Linked DNA regions of Homo sapiens: all the other regions are reported to be linked to region 2. The links are microRNA targets in miRTarBase. Many come from high-throughput screens and were not tested one by one. Region 2 holds a microRNA gene; each other region holds the end of a gene's coding sequence.

Region 1 (3,000 bases), not on the chromosome of region 2:
GAGACAGAGTCTCACTCTGTCGCCAGGCCGGAGTGCAGTGGCGCAATCTCAGCTCACTGCAACCTCCGCCTCCTGGGTTCAAGCGATTCCCCTGCCTCAGCCTCCCGAGTAGCTGGGACTACAGGCACGTGCCACCACACCCAGCTAATTTTTGTAATTTTAGTAGAGACAGGGTTTCACCATGTTGGCCAGGATGGTCTCCATCTTTTGACCTTGTGATCTGCCCGACTCGACCTCCCAAAGTGCTGGGATTACAGGCGTGAGCCACCATGCCCGGCCATGCCTGTGATTTTTAAATTCTTAAACATGTATTATTTATAACTTAAGACATAAAGACACTATAGTCACATAGGAGAAAACAATTATAATCCAAATGAGAAACAAAAGATCTAAATTAAGGAGGTGTGAAGATAATGTAGAGGTTGTATACTATGACCATTTTAGAAAGAGGATTGTAGGTTTTATTGACTAAGAAGATAAAGGGATGCAAATTAGTTATACAGGTTTTAATTCCAGACAACAGAATAGTGGCTATTAACAATAAAATCAGTAAGTATTCTGGACATGTTTAACTTGAATATTCAGGTAGGGGATTTTATTGGAAATACGGATCTAGAGCTAGTGGAAGAAGTTATATTTAGGAGTCATCCACAAAGAGGCTTGAGAAACAAATGAAAATGTATTGAGAAGTGCATAGAGAACAATGTTAAGGGGGCTGTGGGGAAAAAACAACATTTGGAAGATAACTGAAGGAAATCATAGAGGAAAAATAGTACAATCTAATTTTTCTCCCTAACTGAAAGCAAAACCACTTTTAATACTAAGAATTTATTATGATCTCTCCATGATACTACCGTTTTTTCAATCCCAACAATCATCATCACATCCCAGAGCCATCTCATGACAAGAGCTTTCTAAATACTAATTGCCTGAACACTGAAGAAAATTAATATCTGATACTAAGGTGTAACTTATTTCTCTGTAATTAAAAAAAAGGGGGCCAGGCACGGTAGCTCATGCCTGTAATCCCAGCACTTTGGGAGGCCGAGGTGGGTGGATCACCATCAGGAGTTAAAGACCAGCCTGGTCAAGATGGTGAAGCCCCATCTCTACTAAAAATACAAAAAAATAGCCGGGCGTGGTGGCGGGCGCCTGTAATCCCAGCTACTCGGGAGGGTGGGGCAGAGAACTGCTTGAACCTGGGAGGTGGAGGTTGCAGTGAGCTGAGAGCGTACCACTGCATTCCAGCCTGGGCAACAGAGTGAGACTCCGTCTCAAAAAAAAAAAAAAAAAAAAAAAGGCTTTCTGTTCTTGAAATATTCAAACTAGACAGGACAATTTTAACTGAAGCTGTTCTCACAACCCTGTTTTTCAGCTATTATAAGTTTGTTAATGGACAAACATGTTCATAACTGAAATTTTAAAATTACATAAAAGTATAATTCTATAACCTGCAGAACTAACATTTGATGCATTTTTCCTAGTCCTTTCAATGCTTAGTTTTTATTACATGTATGTAATATCACTTATTGAAGGCTTACTAAATACTGAACCCTGTATTAAAACACTTTCCTGTCTTGTCCTTCCAAACATCCTGACACTCAAAAGTTAAGTGATCTGCACAGGGTCATAGCTAGAATTTAAAAGCTGCTACTTACATCTCAGATATGACTCCAAAGCCCAATCTTCACTACAAAACTGCAATACCTGCTTTCCCTCTCCCCCACTTAGCATAGTTTCAGCATTTCCCAGAACATTAACAGTAATAATTTATTGGCAACTTGACCTCTTATTGTATACATACAGCATGATTTATTTTCCTATTCACCTAGTACTAGCCAAATGTGTATGTATATTGCTATTATAAACAACCCTGTGATTAACATCTTTCTATCAAGATCTGCCTCTACTTTGAACAGTTTCCTTATTGCCAATAGTTATTTTAAAATAAATAGTTATTTTAAAGGGAAATTGACACATACATATAACACACTCACGCAAAACTGGCAAGTAGCAGATAAGTGCTCTTCTAATTTCAGTTTCCTAGCTTTCATGTAGAATGAACAATTATAGTAATAAAGGCTGAAGGAAAACAAAGATATTATTGAGATACAACAGGGACAGTCTAAAACAGCATCAGAAAGCAAGTTCATGCTGTTCAACATTAGCAGGCAAGGGAAATAGGGAAAGAAATACGCAAACGTGGCTATCACAGAAAAGCCAGCTTATTACTTTAGGTTCTGTGGGAGACTACAGGTCACATAAAAGCAGTCTCAACAATAATGTGACCACATGTGCAATCAACATTTACAAAATGAAATTATATATCATGTATAACACAAATGTTTTGCCTATACTTTAATTTACAAAGCCACATACCGAATGACTGAAATGTACATAAACATTCTTTTATGATAGACCAGAACATCTATATTATCATGACTTAGAAAAAGAAAACAGATGCAAAATAGTGTTGAGAATTTCTGGCCTGAAATTACAAGACTAAGTGTGTGTGTGCATGCGTGTGTACATATATTTAAATCGTTTTATTCTCATTTGATCCTTTTGGCTGAACTTTATTCATATATTATCTGCCCTTCTTCTTATAATCTCTCTCATGAAAGATATCATTATCCAGTCATTGAAGCCAAACCCCCTTCACCAGCCCCCAATCTCTAGACATCAAGGGTTAACAAGACATCTTCCTAAATTTCTCCGGAATTAAGCTCTTCTCTGTTAGAATTTCCTTTCCAAGTCCATTTCTTCATAAATCTGGCATGTGAAATTTGAATTGCTCTGCCGCAGTTTTCTCTTCTTTAGTCAGTGGTGACAGCTAGAAAATAAATGATAAAATCTTTATTTCAAAAACTTTCAAAGACTTAAATCAGTTTAGTTAACTTCTGCATTGTCACACCAATAAATGTTTCCCTAAGCTTATACTATGTATGTAATCACAGATTTAGAAAGGCAAGGGAAAAAACAGATACTTGGCTATTTATA
Region 2 (3,113 bases):
ACATCCATACAATGGAATATTATTCATGCTAAAAGAAATGAGCTATCAATCCACAAAAAGACATGGAGGAACCTTAAGTGCATGTTACTAAATGAAAGAAGTCAAAGGCTACATACTATAGGATTCCAACTGTATGAGATTCTGGAAAAGGAAAAGTTATAGAGACAGAAAAATGATGGGTAGTTGGTAGGGGTTGGTTTGCAGGGAGGCAGAGACGAACAGGTGAGCACAAGATTTTTTTTTTTTTTCTTTTCTTGAGAGAGGGTCTCACTCCATTGCCCAGGCTGGAGTGCAGTGGTGCAATCACGGCTCACGGAAGCCTCAATTTTCTGGGCTCAGATGATCCTCCCACCTCAGCCTCCCGAGTAGCTGGGGCTACAGGTGTGTGCCACCATGACCAGCTGATTTTTTTTGTATTTTTTGTAGAGATGGGGTTTCACCATGTTGCCCAGCCTTGTCTCCAACTCCTGAACTCAAGAGATCCACCTGCCTTGGCCTCCCAAAGTGTTGGGATTATAGGCATGAGCCACCATGTACAGCCACAAGGAGATTTTTTAAGCAGTAAAGTTATTTTCTATGTTACTACAATGTTGGATACATGGCACATACATTTGCCAAAACCAGTGAAATTTACAACACCAAGCATGAACCCTAATGTAAACGCATACTTTGAGTGATAATGATGTGTCTACGTTGGTTCATCAGCTGCAGCAAATGTACCACACTGGTGTGGACAGTGGGGAAGCCTGTGGGTGTAAGGGGAGGGAGTATATGGGAACTGTCTGTATTTTCCACTCAACTTTTAATAAACCTAAAAAAGAGGGAGGGGCCACGACTTTCATTCACATTCTAGGAGACAGTGGGAACAGCAGCTGTTCATAAGGACAATACTAGTCATGGTAGTTCATATCTATCATATAACCACAGAAATTCCTTTCATTGAGGCTTAGAGCAAAAGAAGAAATAAAGATTATTCTGATGACAGACAAAACAAGGAGGAAAAGAAGCTTAAATCCAGTGATCCTGGCTAACTATCAGCCAACAACAATGGCAAAAACTAAGCTGCCAAGTCTCATTCCAGAGTCAGGTCTTCAACTTGTAGGCCAGAGCTCCCAGAATGTGTCTAGGGATAAAATCATAATAATCATCACAGTCACATGATAGGTGAGCTCTGCCAAGCCTAATAGCCTCTGTGCATCTCTCTACCTTTGCTTCTCTCAGAAACTCTTCTCTTCTGTTGCTTGGAAAGAATTAGGAATCTTTTTTCAAAACAGCTTCACAGCTTCTCTCTAAGATTTGTTCTAGGAGAAGGGAAATGAAAAGTATGATTCAACAGTTCAGTGAAGATACTGAACAATGGGAATCATTAGCAAATCTATCAGAAAAGCTAATTCGGGGAAGGTAAAAAAGGGCAAGTTGCAAAGAAGGAAATGATTAAATTACATTTCAGTCCTGAAAAATCTGTTTAACTTGAGACTTTCTAATTCAGAATGGCCATCTCTGACTGTGTGCTGCTGGGAAGATGAAATAAGAATGGGGTTGGGGATGTAAACACTCATCATCCTGGAGACACAATTACTATCTTTCTGCTTGGCTGTTATATGAACCTGCCCTGGGCTTTCTAGTCTCAGCTCTCCTGACCAGCTGAGCTGGAGGAGAGCTGAGACTAGAAAGCCCAGGGCAGGTCCAACTGAAAAACTTATCAACTTTTCAAACAGATTGACAGTTGCTTTGGGCTGGAGGGATGTGAGAGAGGGAAAGGGGAAGTGACTGCTGATGTGTATGGGGTTTTTTAGGAGGTGATAAAGATGATATGAAATATCTAGATAGAGGTGATGACTGCACAACTCTATATACTAAAAGCCATTGAAATGTATACTTTAAATAGGTGGCCTGTATGGTAGGTGAATCATATCTCAATAATGCTGTTATTAAGAAAACACTATTCAAATAAATGTCTATCAATTTGTGAAGTAAAAAATGGTAATCCTATTTTTTGGATCCATTTCATTTCCTTAATAATTAAGAGTATTGGTGAACATCTTTTCATTTGTTTACCAGCTCACTGTGTATCTTTTAGATGGTCTACTAGTGTCTTATGTACATTTTAAAAACCTTTGTTATTTTAAGGTTTTTTGTTGTTGTTGTTGTTGTTGTTTGTTTTTTAGATGGGGCCTCACTATGTTGCCCGGCTTGCCTTGAACTCCTGGCCCTTAAGTGATCCTCCTGCCTCAGACTTCCCAGTAACTAGGACAACAGGCACATGCTACCCTACCTAGCTTTGGTTACTTTAACTTTTCTCTTATGGATTATCTGAGCTCTCTGTAAATAAATACACTGGCTTCTGTTTACAAAAAATAATTCTCAGAGCAAGGGAACCATCTTCCCTTTCTGAGTATATCTGCATGGCATCCTAGGAAGAACACTTAATCTTCTTTCCAGAAAGCTTCATTCAAATGCAGTCTTAAAATCTGTCCTAAGAAAGGGGTATAACTAAGTACTCAGTCACACTCACTCTAATCATCATTTAATCTAATCTGAAATCACAGTCAATGTATCCTATAGCCTGGTACCTGGAAAAAGTCCCTGATGACAAATAAGAAGACTTCTTCCATGCTTAGAAGTGTCCCAAGTTTCTCTGAGTTCTCATTTATGATTCTGACATTGAGAAAAATGCCCAAATATATATGTGTGTCTGTCTGTTTAAAATTATAGCTTTACTGAGATATAACTTACAATTCACCTATTTTAAAGTATACAATTCAAGGTTATTAGCATATCCGCACAGTTATGTAACCATCAGCAAATAAATTTTACAACCACCATCATTACTGTCTAATTTCAGGCATTTTCATCTCCCCTAAATACCGTACCCATTAACAGTCACTCCCTTTTACTCTGTCCCACTCCTGCCCTAGCCCTAGGCAATCACTAATTGCTTCTCCTGGACATTTCATGTAATGAAATCATATGGTAGGTGGCCTTCTGTGTCTGGCTTCTTTCACTCAGCATAACATTTTCAAAGTTTATCCACGCTTATTGCATGTTTCAGTACTTCACTTTTTTTTTTTTCTTCCCCAAAGAGACAAGGTCTCATTCTATCACCCAGGCTG
Region 3 (3,113 bases), not on the chromosome of region 2:
CCATTTCTATCTAAACTTTTCTGAACCAGTTTTATCTTTTTAGCCTGTTCTGCCTCAGGGGATAATGAGTCCCTACGTGCCACTCACACACTCACTATATTACAGCCCCAACAGTCTGAAAATTATTTCTTTTAAGCTTTGAGAACTTTGCCTTAGTTCTCATGTTCTGGGATGTGTCTGATCCACAAGTGCTGTGTACTTTTCAAATCTTTACCTGTTGGAGGGGATGAAGTGTGGATTAAACAAGTAACCAGAGTTGGTTATTGAGGAAATGTTTCCTCGGAGGAGCTCTATTTGAGGGAAGCATGTGCACTGAGACTTTGTTTACAATGTACCTGTTATCTCCCACCTCCCTCCCCCAGTCACCCCTATACACTTAAGACATTCTCCTCACTCCTCTGCCCCTTTTTTTCTGCCCTGTGTGTTTGTACAGGGGGAGCAGTACCATCAGGCTTGGAGGAGAACCTGTGTAAGATCTGCATGGACTCACCCATTGACTGTGTTCTTCTGGAGTGTGGCCACATGGTAACCTGTACCAAGTGTGGCAAGCGCATGAATGAATGTCCCATCTGCCGGCAGTATGTAATCCGAGCTGTGCATGTCTTCCGGTCCTGAGAGCTTGCATCGGTTTCTTCAGTGCCTTACAGGGAAATAGCCTGGGGTGTCTGGGCTCAGGGTTGGCCAGCTTGCAGAGGAGCAAGCTAGTAGAAATATTGCAGGGTTCCCAAAACCAGGTCAAGCAAGATGCCATGTCACCCCTGAGCATGCCTGTCTTCCCAGGGGTGTACCTCTTGGCTGGCAAAGCCCAAGGCCAGTGGGAACTTGTATAAATCACATGGGTATGTTCTTGGTTCAGTGATCTTGGAGTGATGATGGTAACTGATGAACAGAGAACTTTCCAGAACTTGGGTCCTGTCTTCCTCCCTGAACCTAGACAGTTTCACCCCTCCTCCTGTACCCAACCCATCCCCACCCCATATGGGAGATGCTTGCCCATGTGTTTCATCAATCAGAAGTCCTCCTCCCCAGCACATTCGGATTTAAATTTCTGGTCTCTCCGGCTTTCTGTGCTTTAACTATCTTTGCTAAAGTCTCTTGCTACATTGCCTAAATCCATTTGTTTCTTTGGACCAAAAATGTTAGTTTACCAGACCGATAGTGGTCCTTAGGACAGATTTTAGACCAGTAAACTTATCTTTGGTGAGAAATGAAATACAAATGCTATAGAAAAATTTCAAAGTTGTTAAAAGCCACTTCATTAAATGCTGGGATTGGAAGCTGTTGGTCTCCTGACCTGACTCTGGGAGCCAACAAAACATCAGGCTCCCAAACTGCTGGGAAATTTGTTTCTGTCTGCAAGGGATAGTGCGTGCATAATCCCTGCTGCTGCTTCTCTTGGGACCTGATTTGCACCATCCTTAGTTTATGCGGAAAGGGGAAGCAATGGGTGGAGGCAGTGGCCTTCTCCTTAATTTTGGCTTGGCTTCTGATCCTTTTCCCAACTAGAAGTCTTAAGCCACTTTTCGCTGAAAATGAAATCCCTCCCTTATCCATGGTAGTTTTAAATTTGGTTTCATTGAAGAAATAGATTTAGGCAAAGAGCCTGTGCTCTTCTCTGGCCAGACTGCTGTTGAAGTTCCTGGAGAGCAAATGTTAAGACAGAGCACTTAAGAGCTTTCAGGAGGTACTGAATGAGACTGGATTCTGTTGTAAGCCGACAGTTCAAGTCTTTATTTCCCAGGTTGGTGGGGAGTGAGGAGACCCTACTTTCATTCCCTTTCCTAGCCCACTGATTTTTGGGGGCAGGTCAGGGAGAAAGCATTTTTTTTTTTTTTTTGAGTCTCACTCTGTTGCCCAGGCTGGAGTGCAGTGGTACAGTCTTGGCTTACTGCAACCTCCACCTCCCAGGTTCAAGCTATTCTCCTGCCTTAGCCTCCAGAGTAGCTGGGATTATAGGCGCCCACCACCACACCAGGCTAATTTTTGTATTTTTAGTAGAGACGGGGTTTTACCATGTTCACCAGGCTGGTCTTGAACTCTTGACCTTATGATCCGCCCGCCTCAGCTTCCCAAAGTGCTGGGATTACAGGCGTGAGCCACCACACCCAGCAGGAGAAACCATTTTCTAGGCTCTTTAGGAAGGACCATGCAATGAGTAGGTGATGTATTTGAGCCCTCACAGTCTTTACACCCCTAGAGGAGCTGGAGGACTTAAGAGTTTGCTGCAGAAGCGTGGCCAAGCACAAAACACATGATCAGGAAAGCAGAGTGTTTTCCCATTACCAATGGATGAACTATGCAAACCCTAAACGCCTTGGCAGACACCTCCCACCCCTTACCCCTCCCATGCAGCTGAAAAATCTGAGACTAGAACCAATCATGACTCTGGATGGCAGAGGGAAACCTCTAAAGGGACTTATTACATTGGTACAGACATATTTATGCTTTCTTCCATCACCAACCACTAAACCCCTTTGGAGGAATGAAATAACTGCATAAACTAGTCAACTGAACACTGGGCCACTTACCTCAATGTTATACAAAGTCCTGGATGATTTGATTCTGAACCACAGCCTTTGCAGGAGTTGGGGGAATCAGATTTGCTCATGAAGACATCCCTTTCCACTTTTGTCATGGGCAGTAAATACTATAGTTTACAATGCCTACCAATTAGCAAAGGATCATTCATTCAGCTACTCAGTTCCTCTGTAAAACAGGTCTATGTATGTGCAATTCAGCTAAGATCTAGCAGTAACTTAAGGGCAGAAGCTGGCTCTCTACTTACAACCTGCTTTCTCTGCTGAAGCCTTACCTCCTCTTCAGTTTCCCTCCTAGACACAAATCGAAAATAATATACTGATAGCTGGTTAGTAACCTCAGTAAGAATTAAAACTGAGGTTGTTTACTCATTTTGCCTTTAAATCTTTTATCCCCTTTTGGTGAAGGTTTCCCTTTAGGAAAAAAGGTGTCAAACAACCCTGATTTTTTTTTTTTTTGCATCATTTTTATTACACCAAATTAAAGTTGGGAGTTCCAAGATCCCATTCCAGTTAATATTTAACCAAGGTCTAAAATTTGATTTTTTTTAAATCTTTGAATCCTCCCTTCTGCCC
Region 4 (3,113 bases), not on the chromosome of region 2:
TCCCTAAGGGACATTCACAAGGGATTTCGACTTTGTGCAGCCTTGGCCCCATTTGCCAACTTTCGACTCCAACCCCCACCTAAGTTGCAACTCCACTGTGTCAATTCATCACTGTAGCTCATAAGCCTCTGGGCTGTTTACATCTTTTTGATACCCCTGTGAGGTTCCTGGGGGACAGGAGGCTGGGGTACAGGCCTGACCCTCCTGGACGCTGGGTTAAGTGATGAATTTTGGGACTGATGTGCCTCCTTCTGGGCCAACCCCAGGGTGTTCCAGGCTTAGAGCCTTCAGGGAGAAGGCCAATAGCCCACTCACCTTTGGCCTCTCAAATCCCATCCATAAAAAACAGCAGAAAAAAAAAGGAGATGCACAGAAATAATTTAGGAGATCCCCCCAACACACACACACACACACACACACACACACACACACACACACACACACACAAAACCTCTGTATAAATAAATAATTCAATACTGCTAATGGCGAGAAAGAGAGACAGTCATCAAATAAATAAATAGATAAATAAATAAAATAAATAAAAAGGTTTGCTAGGAGCCCCAGGCAAAATGGTCCCCTAGAGTTGTCTTGATGAAGGCAGTCCGAACGTGAGGTTCTGATGCCTCTCACAGCTGTCCTGCTAAGAAGGTTTTTGGTGGCTCTGGGAAGCCTTTGTCTCCATGGAGGGAGACTGAAGTCCAGTCTGGGTTCCTGGGCAGGGACGAGGGTTATTTACAGTGGCTGTACTTGCCCTCCCCGGGGCACCTGCCCCTGTCCCAGGCACCTGCCATCTGGCCTTCTGCAGTGACAGCACTGGCATCCATTAGTCTTTGTGGGCAGGGCTTAGGTCTGGGCCAGAGGCCCGGTATGGGGAGGCTGGGTCGTCCACTGCTGCCCGGGGCCCTCACTCCTGTCTTCTGATGGAGGAAGGGCTGTCGTGGTGGTGGTTGCATGGCAGTCTCTAGCCCCATGGGTTGATAGGATGGGAAAGATTGGGTAGGGAGACGTCACTGCTTCCAAGAAAAAGGACTATTTTCCAAATGTTTTCCCTGGGGTGGGAGGGATAAAGAATGTTTGGCCCTTGCTTCCCCATAACCCAAAATATCCAAAAGCTGGGACCGGTCCTCTCTCCCTCGCTCCCTCCGTGCCCTGTCCTGCTGCTGTTGCCACCACAAACTTGAAACTCACCCACAAGCCTCCGGAAAGCCAGTCAGCTGGTGAGGGGGATGCCCAAGAGTTTATTTTAAGGATCTTATTCCTCACCTCCCCGTTCTTAGCGCCTTCTGTGGATGAAGCAGCTGGTGGTATTTGTGGATCGGAGATCAGCTTACCCTCTCTGCCCAGCCCCAGCCAGGGGGGACTTGGGGTGAGGGCAAAAATAAAGGTGGGTCTTTCCCAAGCTGACAAGAAACCTCAGAAGCCAGCAGGAGCCCAAGACATGGCATATCCAAGCCCCTCTCCCCTGCACTCTGGATTCGGGTCTTTTCCCCCAAACCTGAGCTGCTGTGCCCCATCCTGGCAAAATTCCTGAGAGGCAAGGGGAGTGGCTTAAGCTGAAGGGTGGGTGGGTAGGTGCCAGGCTGCACTGGGTGGCATCCAGGGCGTGGCAGCCTGGGCAGAGGGGAGGGGGCTGGCAGGCGCCAACCGGAGGGTAAGGCCAGACTGGCTGGCGCTGGGGCCTGGCAACTGGCCATGGCACTGGGGAATGTTCAGCAGATGGTCCCGTGGAATTAAGTTGGTGCCAGCTAGTGGGGCTGAGGCATATTTGGGAAGTGGGGCTGGAGACCAACCTGTCCTGACTCTTCCACTATCTCCTTTCTCGTGAGGTTGCAGGGCCCCTGTGAATGGCCAAGAGGTGTTTTGTGTCAGCCATGCAGTGGCCTCTTCACAGCTGGGATCTGCTGGGCTCTGTCCCCTTACCATGCTGAGGTATTGGGAGCAGCAGCTGAACCCTTCCGTTTTTCTATCTATCATCTTAACCAACTCCTATCTCCTGACACCTCCCACCAAGTCAAACGTCCCCATCTGGTATTCAAGGATATCCCTTCTTCTAGGACCCAAATGTCTTCCAGCCTTTGCTTGGGCCTGTTTGAGGAAGTTAAAGGCCTGACCCCGTTATCTTGAACCTGAACTGCCATTGGTCTCCTCTTTCACCCCTCTCAGACATGGGGGTCCATCCACGTGCAGCCATGAAGTTGGACTAGTGGGGCATCCGGGGAGGTGGGGAGAATTACCACGGGCCTCCTGTGAGCAGTGGAGGAGAAGAACTGTCTCCACATTTTCCTGGCCAGGGCTCAATTTTTGAGTCACAGACCCATTGCTTCTCACAAAACCTTGAAGTTTTCTTTTCTTTCTTCTTTTTTTGTGCCACAAGATGATGGTTCTTTCCATATGCCCAGGCCTGAGCTGGGCCCCAGGATGATGCTGGTAGAGGCTCCTAGCAGGCTGATCTAGAGAGTGAAGCCCCCTTACCCTCTTCTCCTCTTCCCCTAGGCAAGCAGGAAGGACAAGGTATAGGAGCCCTCACTATTTGTCACCAAGAAGGCGGGGAGGGCAGGTGGTTGGGGGAGGCTGGCAGCGCGAAGGGGCCCCCACGGGCAGCTGGCTCAGGGGCACTTAGCGCCTCGTGCTGGAGTAGCTGTCTGCTGAGCTGTAGCTCCGGCTCTGGCTCCTGCTCCGGCTCCGGCTCCGGCTCCTGCTCCGGCTCCGGCTGCGGGAGCCCGGACTAGGGCTGCGGGAGCTAGAGCTGCTGCTCGTGCGGGTCCGGCTCCGTCTCCGGCTCCGGCTCCGACTCCGGCTCCGGGAGTAGCTGCGGCTGGCCGAGCGGCTACTGCTGCTGCTGTACCAGGAGGAGGTGCTGCTGAGGCTGCCGGATGAGGAGGGGCTGGGCCGATAGTAGGGGATGGGGCGTTTCCGGGCACTGCAGAGACCAGAGAGAGGAGGGATGAGGGCCGGCCCCTCCGTGCCTCCCCGCAGCGAGCCCCAGTCTTGTCCCAAGGGAAACCAATATCCTCCCTTTCCCCAGTCCCTTAGGAAAAAATACTCCCTTTCCACTTCTCTTGCAGTGCTGAGAACACATCAAAGTAAAAGTCTCAGCTTAGTGCTAGTATGTC

Evidence for each region. Region 2 holds the annotated microRNA hsa-miR-3160-5p (GGCUUUCUAGUCUCAGCUCUCC, at 1,655-1,676, opposite strand). A microRNA usually pairs through its seed, bases 2 to 8, with sites in the 3' UTR of a target mRNA and lowers its output. Matches are read on the target gene's strand: a 7mer-m8 pairs with bases 2 to 8, a 7mer-A1 pairs with bases 2 to 7 and ends in A, and an 8mer does both.
Region 1: the mRNA of SKA2 is a reported target of hsa-miR-3160-5p. Seed matches in the 3' UTR shown: 7mer-A1 at 1,709-1,715, 7mer-m8 at 1,301-1,307 and 7mer-m8 at 910-916.
Region 3: the mRNA of RFFL is a reported target of hsa-miR-3160-5p. Seed matches in the 3' UTR shown: 8mer at 1,814-1,821 and 7mer-A1 at 2,260-2,266.
Region 4: the mRNA of SRRM4 is a reported target of hsa-miR-3160-5p. The part of its 3' UTR that is shown has no 7-base or 8-base seed match.

The regions. Positions count from the first base shown.
Region 1 is chr17:59,109,513-59,112,512 of GRCh38, forward strand. SKA2 (spindle and kinetochore associated complex subunit 2) reads right to left here. Exons shown (of 4, transcript NM_182620.4): 4 at 345-2,833. The coding sequence ends at 2,765. The region is part of intron 1 of LOC124904039 (a long non-coding RNA gene); the gene reads left to right. Among named protein-coding and RNA genes, the nearest start is that of TRIM37, 4.1 kb to the left of the region's middle.
Region 2 is chr11:46,450,202-46,453,314 of GRCh38, forward strand. It overlaps MIR3160-1 (microRNA 3160-1), which reads right to left and starts at 1,688; the gene lies at 1,604-1,688. All of the region lies in intron 11 of AMBRA1 (autophagy and beclin 1 regulator 1), which reads right to left. It overlaps MIR3160-2 (microRNA 3160-2), which reads left to right and starts at 1,606; the gene lies at 1,606-1,686.
Region 3 is chr17:35,009,470-35,012,582 of GRCh38, reverse strand. RFFL (ring finger and FYVE like domain containing E3 ubiquitin protein ligase) reads left to right here. Exons shown (of 7, transcript NM_001017368.2): 7 at 434-3,113. The coding sequence ends at 615. It overlaps LIG3 (DNA ligase 3), which reads right to left. Exons shown (of 20, transcript NM_013975.4): 20 at 2,840-3,113. RAD51L3-RFFL (RAD51L3-RFFL readthrough) reads left to right here. Exons shown (of 7, transcript NR_037714.1): 7 at 434-3,113. Among named protein-coding and RNA genes, the nearest start is that of LIG3, 31 kb to the right of the region's middle.
Region 4 is chr12:119,156,302-119,159,414 of GRCh38, reverse strand. It overlaps SRRM4 (serine/arginine repetitive matrix 4), which reads right to left. Exons shown (of 13, transcript NM_194286.4): 13 at 1-2,920. The coding sequence ends at 2,617. Among named protein-coding and RNA genes, the nearest start is that of HSPB8, 21 kb to the left of the region's middle.